Linked DNA regions of Homo sapiens. The protein of the gene in region 1 interacts with the protein of each later gene in a pairwise test. Each region holds a gene or a part of one and is shown on either strand. Other genes may lie near its edges.

Region 1 (5,751 bases):
TCTGTGTGGGCATTGTCCTCCCATAGGTCTGGCCCCATCCTGGACCAGATGCTCCTGAGGGCAAAGCCCCACCCTGACACCCCTTCACCAGCCCAGGAACCTGGATCTCAGAAGGGATGTTGGGGCACCCCAGGAGCCCACTGGGCTGGTGGGTAACAGGATCCCTAGGGCCTTCTGCCCCGCCCTCCTGCCATGAATCAGCAGCTCAGCCGCTCAAGGGTGGTAGTAGCTTTACACCTGGGCTTGGGCCGTGCTCCACGGCATTCACCAGCTCGTGACCAGTGAGCGGGGCAGCCCAGGGCCACCCAAACCACAGCTGCCTGTGGCCCATACCCTTTGTGCCCTGGGCTGCCTGTGGCACTCCATCCACCTCTTCCAGGAAGCCCAGCTTCCACGCTGTCCCCCTTACTCCCCGTGGTGGGGCTCAGGGGTCCAGCAGGCCCTGCACGGACCAGGCTTCTGAGGTGGGGCTGTGTCACCATTCTCCTCCCACCCCCAACCGCCAACACTGGACTTCCCCCGGGATTGACCACTACACTGACCAGGCCCCAGGAGGCCCCCAACTCCCAGACGGTTTCCACCCCTACCCAAGACCCAAGCAAGGGCACAGACTGTCCCTGGTCCTTAGAGACACTGCCTGACCCCAAATGGCCTGGACCCTCCCCCACACATAAGCTGCAGCGCGTAGTGGGAACGGGACCAGCGTGCACATTCCCTGGGTTAAAGTGGCCTCTTTTTCCTTCACCAGGAGGGAAAGGAAAGCTATTTTCCCTACCCTGCCCAGCCCCCACCCAGGGATGGGCAGACCCTTGCTCCTTGAGACACCCAACTTCTCCCCAGCCAGCTTCCCTGAACACTGAGGGGTAGGCGGGGGTGGTGTCTGGATCTTGGCCCAAAGCCAAGCCTGCCCAGTACATCCCCACAGGGCAGCTGGGGTCACCATCTGGGTGGCTGTCACACCCTGTGCCCTCAAAGTCTGCCCATCAGCCATGTCTTCCCCTGGTCCCCCTGGGCTCTCAGACCCTCCAGGGAGCAGGGAGGGTGCCAGAAGATGGCCGCTGGTCTGACTGGGGGCCTGAGGGATCTGGCCAGCTGGAGGTGAGTGATGCAGGATGACCCAGACACTCCCCCCACGCCCAGCAGCAGGGATGGTGGGGGCACCCGGGCCTGGAGTAGCCTTTGGATACAAGCCAAGTGAGAGAGAACCCCCTTTATTGTGCACCCCTGGTGCAGGCACTTGACACCCAGGCTTCCCTGGGCCCCTCGAGGCAAGAGGTCACCCCCTTTCCAGGGCAGAGCCACACCCCCAACTCAGCTCTGGGCAGGGTCCCGTCTCCGAGGTTACTGGATCAGCTCCATCCTGGGACAAGGAAAGAGGACTGACCCACAGACCAGAGCACCTCAGATCTCCGGCTGCAGGGCCACAACGGTGGGCAGAGGTAGAGAGCGGGCCAGGGTGCAGGGCAGAAGTGTCCGAGTCCAAGTCCACATCCAGGTGTGCTGCCTGCCCTAGCGTCCTCAAGGCCAAACCACCCACCCACCCACCCCCAGCCTCAGGAAGCTGCTGTGGGTCCCACATCCAAGGAGAAAGCCCCTGCCCATGCTCATGTGGTTGCCCTTTGGCCCACTGGAGCCGCCAGTCTGAAACACCCCTCAAGGCATCAGGAACCGAGGAGAGGGAAGGCAACAGCACACCCACCCCGGCTCCAGCTTCTTGCCAGATATGGCTGCTGGCCTTGGGCGCCCACAGATTCACACGCACCACATCACATGTGCCCTGACATATGAACACGGGGAGTGCACGCTCATCCACACGTGCCCACACACACCCACGGGTGAACACAAGACTCCAGGCAGCTTTTCTCATTTGACACCTGGTGGTTGTCCCTGCCCAGCCTGGTGGCACACTGGCTCTGCCTCTCCTCTTAGACCTGTGGGTCTCAGCAGTGACCAAGACAGCCCCCTACCTCCAGGCTGAGCAGCTCTAACCACTGAGACCTCTCCCTTTGAGTCTCCCGGGGTCCCGGCCCCAGCGCGTCCTCCAGAAAGCCCTGGGACAGAAGAGAGCCCAAGGCTGACACTCCCTTGGGTCGGCCTGGGACAGACAGGGGAACTCCGCAGGGGAACCCCTTTGGCATCTAGGACCCCACAGTCAGGTCCCAGTGGAGAGTGCAGTAGCCAGAAGAGGACAGGAGGACCAAGGTAGGCCCAGGGACACTTGTGCCCAGACTCCTACACATGGCAAGCACATGTACACACATGTTTGTGCATGCATACATGCGTGTAGATTCTCCTGAAGGCGAGGGGTCCTAGGCCAGAAGTCTGTGACCATAGGAGTGTGGGAGGTGCCTCTCGAGGAAACCAGGCCAGCTGTGGAAGGGTGCAGGCCCAAGCCCCTCCACAGGCTCTCAGGGGCTGCTGGGCAGCACCTCACTGCTCAATCTCCAGGCTGCCAGGTGGCTTCGGTGGCTCTGGGGGCTTGAAGCTGAGGACTTCCTGGTAAGTGAGCTCTAGGAGGTGAAGGGAAAGGGTGAGCTTGTGCCTCCCACAGCCCGGCCCCTCACCTGCTTGTCTGGCACCTGCCACCCAGCCCAGGCCCACCACCCTGTGACAGCAGCCTCAGCACAGTCTGGGAGCCAGAACCTGCCCTGTGTCACTCCTCCGCCCCGCTCCCAGCCTGTGCTGGACACCTGAACGCCCTTCCACACCTGACCAGTCTGGAGAGGAACTGGGGCATTTCCTGCCTCTGGGGAAATGGAGCCCGCAGGCCCCTGGACCCACCCCCAGCCACTGCCATGCTCACCCTTCCACTCCTCCAGCGTGCGCTCCTTGGCCTCAACGCTCTCATCATATGGCTCGGCCTCTGGCTCATCCTCGGGGTCGTGGTACTGGCTGAAGTAGGCGTGGGCCAGTGCCTCAGCTGCACTGACCCTCTGGTCACTGTCCAGCACCAGCATCCTTCCAAGGAGGTCTATGGCTGCAGGGAAGCCAGTGGTGGGGAGGGGGGTCAGCTGTACATCCAGGGCCAGATATGGAGCCCAGTCTAGCCCAGGGCAGTCCTCACCCAGGGGGTTGGCTCCACGGAAGATGCTGCTCAGGTCCTTCTGGGGCATGGGGGGCAGGGACTGGATATATGTCCGGGCCTGGGGGCACACAAGAACACCTGGGGAGGCTGCTCACTCTCTGCCTCCCTGGCCCCAAACTGGGGCTTCTCTTGGCAAGCCCCCAGACTCATTCACTCCAACAGGCCAGGACAAGGGCACAGGCAGACCAGTGACCCCCTCCATATAGGATCTGGTGGTTCTAGCTCCTCAGTTGGCCCCTAATGCCTGCAGGAGCTGGGTCCAAGTACACTCCCTCCACCCAGCCCACCCCCACTGCCCTGGCCAGGCACTGCTTGCTGGGGTCCCCCAGCCCACCCCCACTGCCCTGGCCAGGCACTGCTTGCTGGGCCCCCAGCCCACCCCCACTGCCCTGGCCAGGCACTGCTTGCTGGGGTCATGGCTTTGCACTCACTGTCCCTGGTGTCAGGAATGTCTTCCCCCTTCTCCTGTTTCCCCTGCAGGGATTGGGCACCTGCCCTAGGCTCTATCCCACCACATCCCATGTTCCCCATATGGTCCCCGCATTTCCACACCACCCTCTCCCCCAGAGAGCCTGGGGGCTCAGCCAGGAGAGGGAGCTGCTGGCTGGCGGGCACCAACTCACGTGTTCTGAGGAGATTTTTGCCAGAACCTCAGGGCTGGGTGTGCCCACCACTTCCATGATGCGCTTCAGCTGGTCAATGTCTGTGTCACTCAGGAAACACCCACGGGCCAGCCACAGACCCCTCCTGGGCCCCCAGACCCAAAACTTTGGGGCGCTGCCCAGAGCCCGCTCTCCTATAGGTGAGGATGGCCAGCCCAAAGTAGCATAGCATGGGGGGCAGAGGAGGCAAGACCCGCCAGAAGGGGCCAGCGCTGGTCCCTACCCTACAGGAGGGGCCCTGTTTGACCCTGCTCCCCAACCTGGGCCAAGGATACAGTCGCTTCCCGGGAAGAGGGCCTTGCCCTGGAGCAGCTCAGCCATGATGCAGCCCACGGACCAGATATCCACTGTGCGAGGGCGAGGGGACCTCCATCAGTGTGCCCACCCCACGTCCCTCCTCCAGGAGACCCACAGTCACATCCAGACCCCAAGATGGGCAGACCCCCTCCTCTGCCATACCCAACCCCCCTAGGCAGGGGGAGGTCCATAGCTGCACAGCCAGAGGAGGCCAGCACCCATCATGCTCTAGCGGCCTCTGAAGGGCTACTTTTGAATGTGGGTCCCACATTCTTGGGGACCTTGCCTGCCCCCTAAGACCTGGCATGCAGAGCCAGTCGAGGGCCAGACGAGGCCCTTGGCCTTCGTCCCCCCAAGGCCTTCCCCCTGCACCTGTTTGGTTGTAATGCATCCAGTTGAGCATGATCTCAGGTGCCCGGTACCAGCGCGTGGCCACATAGCCGGTCATCTCCTCGTCCGCCTGGCGCGCCAGCCCAAAATCCAGGATCTGGGGCGACCACGTGGTGTTCTCAAGCTCCGCACGGGCTCCGCCGCCGCCCTGCCCACCCCTGCCCACGGGCCTCACCCTGAGCTCACAGTCCTCGTTCACAGCCACGTTGCTGGGCTTCAGGTCCTGCAGGTCACGCGGAGCGTGAGCACAGGAGGCTGGGACGGAGCCCTGCTGGACCCGACCCTCACCCTGCGGTCGCACCTACCCGGTGGATGATCCCGGCCGAGTGGATGTACTGCGGGAGGGGGATTGTGGTGAGCGCCGGGCCCGGCCCGCCCGCCCCCCTGCGAGAGGACCCGCGAAGCCCAGGGCGCCCCACCTTCAGCCCGCGCAGCAGCTGGTAAACCAGGAATTGAACGTGCTCGTCGCTCAGCGCCTGGCACTTGACGATGTTGTTCAGGTCGGCGCCCATCAGGGTGGTCACCAAGTACCTGGGGCGGGGTCAGGGGGTCAGGACAGGGCCCCACCGCCCCACCGCGAACGCGCTCCCCGCTGCCTCGCCCGCCCCGCCGCTCACACTTCGCTGAAGTCCTCGATGGACGTGGCCGGCGTGAAGACGTCCAGAAGCCCGATGACCTAGGTGGCGGGGGGCGTCAGGGCCGGGCGACGAACCCCCGGCTGTCGTTCAGCTCCCCCCGGGCCACGCCCCCAGTGCCAGGCCGCGCCCCCTGTGTCCCCGCCCCCATCGCCAGGGCTCGCCCGCCTATTGGCTGCGCCGCGGCCCCGCCCCCGCACGCGCCCTCCCCCCACGGCCCTCCCCCGGCTCACGTTCTCGTGCTTCAGGTGCTTGAGCAGCCGCAGCTCCCGGTACGTTCTGCGCGCGTGGATCAGCGACTGGAAGGGGCGCGACAGCTTCTTCACCGCCACCTTCTGGCGCAGCCGGGCGTCGTAGGCCGAACTGGAAGGCGGGCGAGTGAGGCGGCGCCGGGAGGGGTCCGAGGGCGGCCGCACGCGCGTGGACCCGGGCGGCGTCCCTCTCGCCGCTTCTCCGTGGGGATGGGGCCGTGGGGCTTTTCTGCCCCGGCCCCGCCGCCCCAGCTCGGCCTCCCACCCTCGGGCCTACCCACTCCGCGCTTGCTGGGAAGGAGCCCCTGGGGCTGGACCACCATGCGTGTGTTCACCCCACAAGGTCCTGGACCTTCTCTGTCCCCTGGCCCCACTGATTCCCACGCTCAACCAGGGGCCCCCATTCAAAGCAAGGCTGGGGGAGAGGTGCC
Region 2 (5,083 bases), on another chromosome or scaffold:
CCCAGCTAATTTTTGTATTTTTAGTAGAGATGGGATTTCGCCATACTGGCCAGGCTGGTCTCGAACTCCTGACCTCAGGCGATCCACCCGCCTCGGCCTCCCAAAGTGCTGAGATTACAGGTGTGAGCCACTGTGAGCAACCTACAAATTTTTTTTTTTTTAAATCAGGCAGGCGTGGTGGCACTTGCCTGTAGTCTCAGCTACTTGGGAGGCTGAAGTCGAAGTGAGCTATGATAGCACTACTGTGCTCCAGCCTGGGTTACAGAGTGAGATACTGTCTAAAAAAATATATATCAAATAAAGTTGAGGTTTCTATATCCTAAGAACTAGTGACTCTCTTACAGTATATACACTAAAAAGACTCCTGCACATGTGCATCAGGAGACATGTACAAGAATATTTGCAGTAGTGTTATCTGTAATCTCAAAAAATGTAAATCAATGTCCACAATCAGGAAAACTGATAAACTGTGGCATATTCATACAATGGAATACCATGCTGCAAAAAGCAAATAAGCTAATCATCATGCATCAACACAATGTTGAAGAAGTCAAAGCCAAGGGAGACGTCAGAACTAAATGTAACTCTGAATGCATTCGCCTCACTAGCTAAACTATTCCAAAAAATAGAAATAAAAAAGTCAATACTTGGAAGCCAAGCTAAAAAATTAAAAGTTAAAATAAAAAAACTGAACAGAGGCCTACAGGGTGGCTCACGCCTGTAATCCCAGCACTTTGGGAGGCCGAGACGGGCAGATTACGAGGTCAGGAGATCGAGACCATCCTGGCTAACATGGTGAAACCCTGTCTCTACTAAAAAAATAGAAAAAAATTAGCCAGGCATGGTGGCGGGCACCTGTAGTCCCAGCTACTCGGGAGGCTGAGGCAGGAGAATGGTGTGAAACCGGGAAGTGGAGCTTGCAGTGAGCCGAGATTGCGCCATTGCACTCCAGCCTGGGCGACAGAGCGAGACTCCGTCTCAAAAAAAAGAAAAGAATAACTAGGATATGGAACTCTCAGGAAAATAAATTAAAACTCAGAGTTGCTAGATTATCTAAAAGTCAATATTCAACAAAAAGATAAGAGACATGCAAAGAAACATGAAAGTGTGACCTACACTCAAGACAAAAAACCCTGTCAATAAAACTGACTCTCAGTGATCCCAGATACTGGATTTATAAATATGCTCAAAGAACGATAGGAAATTAAGTTAAAAGGTTAAATGAAAATATACTAATACTTAATCAACAAGAGAATCTCAAGAGAAACTGAAACTATGAAATAAGGAACCAAATAGAAATTCCAGAGTTGAAAATGCAAAAACTGAAATGAAATACATATTAGAGGGGCTAAGTGGCAGAGTCACAACAGGAGTCAATGAACTAGAATATATAGATACCCATATAGAGAAATTATCCAATCCAAAGCACAGAGAGAAAATTGAAGAAAAATGAACAAAGCTTCAGAGACTTGTGAAAAGATGAATGTCAAGCATTCCACCATATATGTAATGGAAATCCCAGAAAGCAGGGAGAGACAAAAGGGAACAGAAAAAAAAAACCATGAAGAAATAACAGATGAAATACTTCCAAATTTGGTGAAAAACTTGAATCTACATACCCAAGAAGTTAAATGGACCTCAAGTAGGATTAAGAAAGAACTTGGATACATCCCAGTCAAACTAACACCAGAAGACAAAAAGAAAACCTTAAAACCAGCAAGACAAAACTGACTCATATACATGATACAAAAATAATTTCCTCTGACTTTCCATCAAAAATAATAGAGGCCAGAGGGCACAGGGATGGCGTATTTGAAGTACTGAAAGAAAACTCTGTCAATCAAGAATTCTATATCCCAGGTAGGGCCGGGCACAGTGGCTCACGCCTGTAATCCCAGTACTTTGGGAGGCCAAGGCGTGTGGATCACCTGAGGCCAGGAGTTTGAGACCAGCCTGAACTACATGACGAAACCCTGTCTCTACTAAAAAGACAAAATTAGCCGGGCGTGGTGGTGCACACCTGTAGTCCCAACTACTTGGGAGGCTGAGGCAGGAGAATTGCTTGAACCTGGAAGGTGGAGGATGCAGTGAGCTGAGATCTCACCACTGCACTCCAGCCTGGGCAACAAGAATAAAGCTCTGTCACAAAAAAAAAAAAAAATTCTATATCCTGGGTAAACGAAGATTGAGGGAATCCACTGTCAGCAGAACTGTACTGCAAGAAATATTAAAGGAAACCGTCTGGCTGGAAAAACATGACACTGGATGATAACTCAGATCCACAGGAAGGAATGAAGAGCAACAGAAGTGATAAATATCTGGGTAAATACATATTTTTCTTTTCTTCCCTTACCTTCTTTAAACATGAGACTGCTTAAAGCAGTAATTATAACACTAGATTATTGGCTTTAAACATGTAGCTATAATATATTTGACAATAGTATCACACAGGAAGAGAGTGAAAGTAGAAGTATGCTGGTGCAAAGTGGCTGTGTATATATATATATTTTTTGAGATGGAGTCTCGCTCTGTCGCCCAGGCTGGAGTGCAGCGGTGCGATCTTGGCTCACTGCAAGCTCCGCCTCCCAGGTTCACGCCATTCTCCTGCCTCAGCCTCCCAAGTAGCTGGGACTACAGGTGCCCGCCACTACGCCCAGCTAATTTTTTTGTATTTTTAGTAGAGACGGGGTTTCACCGTGTTAGCCGGGATGGTTTCGATCTCCTGACCTCGTGATCTGCCCGTCTCGGCCTCCCAAAGTGCTGGGATTACAGGCGTCAGCCACCGCGCCCAGCCAAAATGGCTGTATTTTTACCAGAATTAAGTCAGTATTAATTTGTAATAGATTATGATTAGGTACAGATGCAACCCCTTTTATGAAAGCTAAAAAAAAGAAAAATCAGGGGCCGGGTGTGGTGGCTCACTCCTGTAATCCTAGCACTTTGGGAAGCCGAAGCAGGTGGATCACCTGAGGTTGGGAGCTTGAGATCAATCTGACCAACATGGAGAAACCCTGTCTCTACTAAAAATACAAAATTAGCCAGGCATGGTGGTGCATGCCTGTAATCCCAGCTACTTAGGAGGCTGAGGCAGGAGAATCGCTTGAACCCAAGAGGCGGAGGTTGCAGTGAGCAGAGATCCTGCCATTGCACTCCAGCCTAGACAACAAGAGCGAAAACTCCATCTCAAAAAAAAAAAAAAAAAAAAGAAAAAGAAAAAGAAAAAGAAAAAGAAAAAGAAAAATCAGAAGAATGACAGTGGTTTTCTGAAATGTTTGTTTGACTTTAAGAAGGCAACAAAGAAGAAATAGGGCTAGGCACAGTGGCTCACGCCTGTAATTCTAGCACTTTGAGAGGCTTAGGTGGACAGATCACCTAAGGTCAGAAGTTTAAGACAAGACTGGCCAACACAGAGAAATCCTGTCTCTACTAAAAGTACAAAAATTAGCTGGGTGTGATGGCGCGTGCCTGTGGTCCCAGCTACTCAGGAAGCTGAGACAGGAGAATTGCTTGAACCCAGGAGGCAAAGGTTGCAGTGAGCAGAAGTTGCAGTGAGATCATGCCACTGCACTTCAGCCAGGGCAATGGAGCAAGACTGTCTCAAAAAAAAAAAAAAAAAGACAAAATAGGCCAGGCATGGTAGCTAAGGCCTATAATCCCAGCACCTTGGGAGGCCAAGGCAGGAGGATTGCCTGAGCTCAGGAGTTCGAGACCAGCCTGGGCAACATAGTGAGACCTTATCTCTACTACAAAAAAAAAAGTTAGCTGGGCGTGGCGGCATGTACTTTTAGTTCCAGCTACTCAGGAGGCTGACGTGGGAGGATCACTTGAGCCCAGGAGGTTGAGGCTGCAGTGAACTATGATCATGCTATCACACTCCAGCCTGGGGAACAGAGTGAGACCTTGTCAATCAATCAATTCATTCATTCATTCATTCATTCAAAAAGACTAAAATTATACAAAGTATATTCTCTGAACACAATAAAATTAATTAAAAATTAACAACAGAAAGATATCAAAAAAACCCCAAATATTTAGAAATCAAACAACCACAAGGAAAATTAAAAATGATGCCAAGTTTAATGAAGCTGAAAACACAACATAAAAAAAGTATGATATCCTGAGAGTGACACTGTATGGAAAAAAATTTATGAGATGCAGCAAAGCAATGCTTACGGGGAAATAAATAGCTTTAGAGCTTATATTAGAAAGGAAGAAAGGTCTAAAATCAATCCTGTAAGCTTCCACTTTGAGAGGCTAGAAAAAGAAGAACAAATCAAACCCAGTAAGTAAAAGGAAGAAAATAAACATCACACTGGAAATATATTTAATGTGATATCCTGGATTAGATCATGGAACAGAAAAAGTCCAGAAGCTGAATAAAGCCTGAAGTTTATATAAAAGTAATATACCAGTGTTTGCTTCTTAGTTTTGACATATGTACTAGATGAGGGATATATAGGAACTCTATTACTTTTTCAATTTTTCTATAAATCTAAAATTATTCCAAAATAAAAGATTTTAAAAATCCACAAAGAAAAGTCCAAGCCTAAATGGCCTCAGCACTGAATTTATCAAACTTTTTAGGAAGAAATATCATTCCATACAAACTCAGAGGAGGGAACACTTCTCAACTCATTTACAAGGCCTATATTACCCTGCTACCAAAGCCAAACAAGGACACCACAACAGAACTATAAACCAATAGCCCTCATGAAACAGATGTAAAAATTTTTTTCTTTCTTTTTTTTTAAAAAAAAAAAAATTAGAGAAGGGGTTTCACCATGTTGCCCAGGCTAGTCTTGAACTCCTGGGCTCAAGCAATCTGCCCAACTCGGCCTCCCAAGGTGCTGGGATTTCAGGCATGAGTCACAGCATCCAGCCAAGATCTTTTTTTTTTAAATCAGCAAATCCAATCCAGCAACATATAAAAAGAATTATACATCAAGACCAAGGCTGGTTTACTCCAGGAATGCAAGGTTGGTTTAACATCTAAAAAAACAACTACTGTAATACATTCTTAATATGATAAAAGACAAAAGGAACATAGGAGAATGATACAGAAAAAGCTGACAAAATCCAAAAT

What was found.
Region 2: the proteins of MAPK11 (region 1) and SETDB1 interact in binary tests that used the Homo sapiens proteins (3 or more experiments, as listed by UniProt).

What each region holds. Positions count from the first base shown.
Region 1 is NC_000022.11:50,262,518-50,268,268, forward strand, and holds the end of MAPK11 (mitogen-activated protein kinase 11), read right to left. Parts: intron 5,433-5,751; coding exon 5,303-5,432; intron 5,111-5,302; coding exon 5,052-5,110; intron 4,966-5,051; coding exon 4,854-4,965; intron 4,770-4,853; coding exon 4,740-4,769; intron 4,658-4,739; coding exon 4,610-4,657; intron 4,532-4,609; coding exon 4,417-4,531; intron 4,095-4,416; coding exon 4,023-4,094; intron 3,789-4,022; coding exon 3,709-3,788; intron 3,144-3,708; coding exon 3,065-3,143; intron 2,978-3,064; coding exon 2,804-2,977; intron 2,511-2,803; coding exon 2,431-2,510; 3' UTR 1,196-2,430; downstream 1-1,195. UniProt on the Homo sapiens protein: Serine/threonine kinase which acts as an essential component of the MAP kinase signal transduction pathway.
Region 2 is NC_000001.11:150,931,902-150,936,984, reverse strand, and holds part of SETDB1 (histone-lysine N-methyltransferase SETDB1), read right to left. Parts: intron 1-5,083. UniProt on the Homo sapiens protein: Histone methyltransferase that specifically trimethylates 'Lys-9' of histone H3. H3 'Lys-9' trimethylation represents a specific tag for epigenetic transcriptional repression by recruiting HP1 (CBX1, CBX3 and/or CBX5) proteins to methylated histones.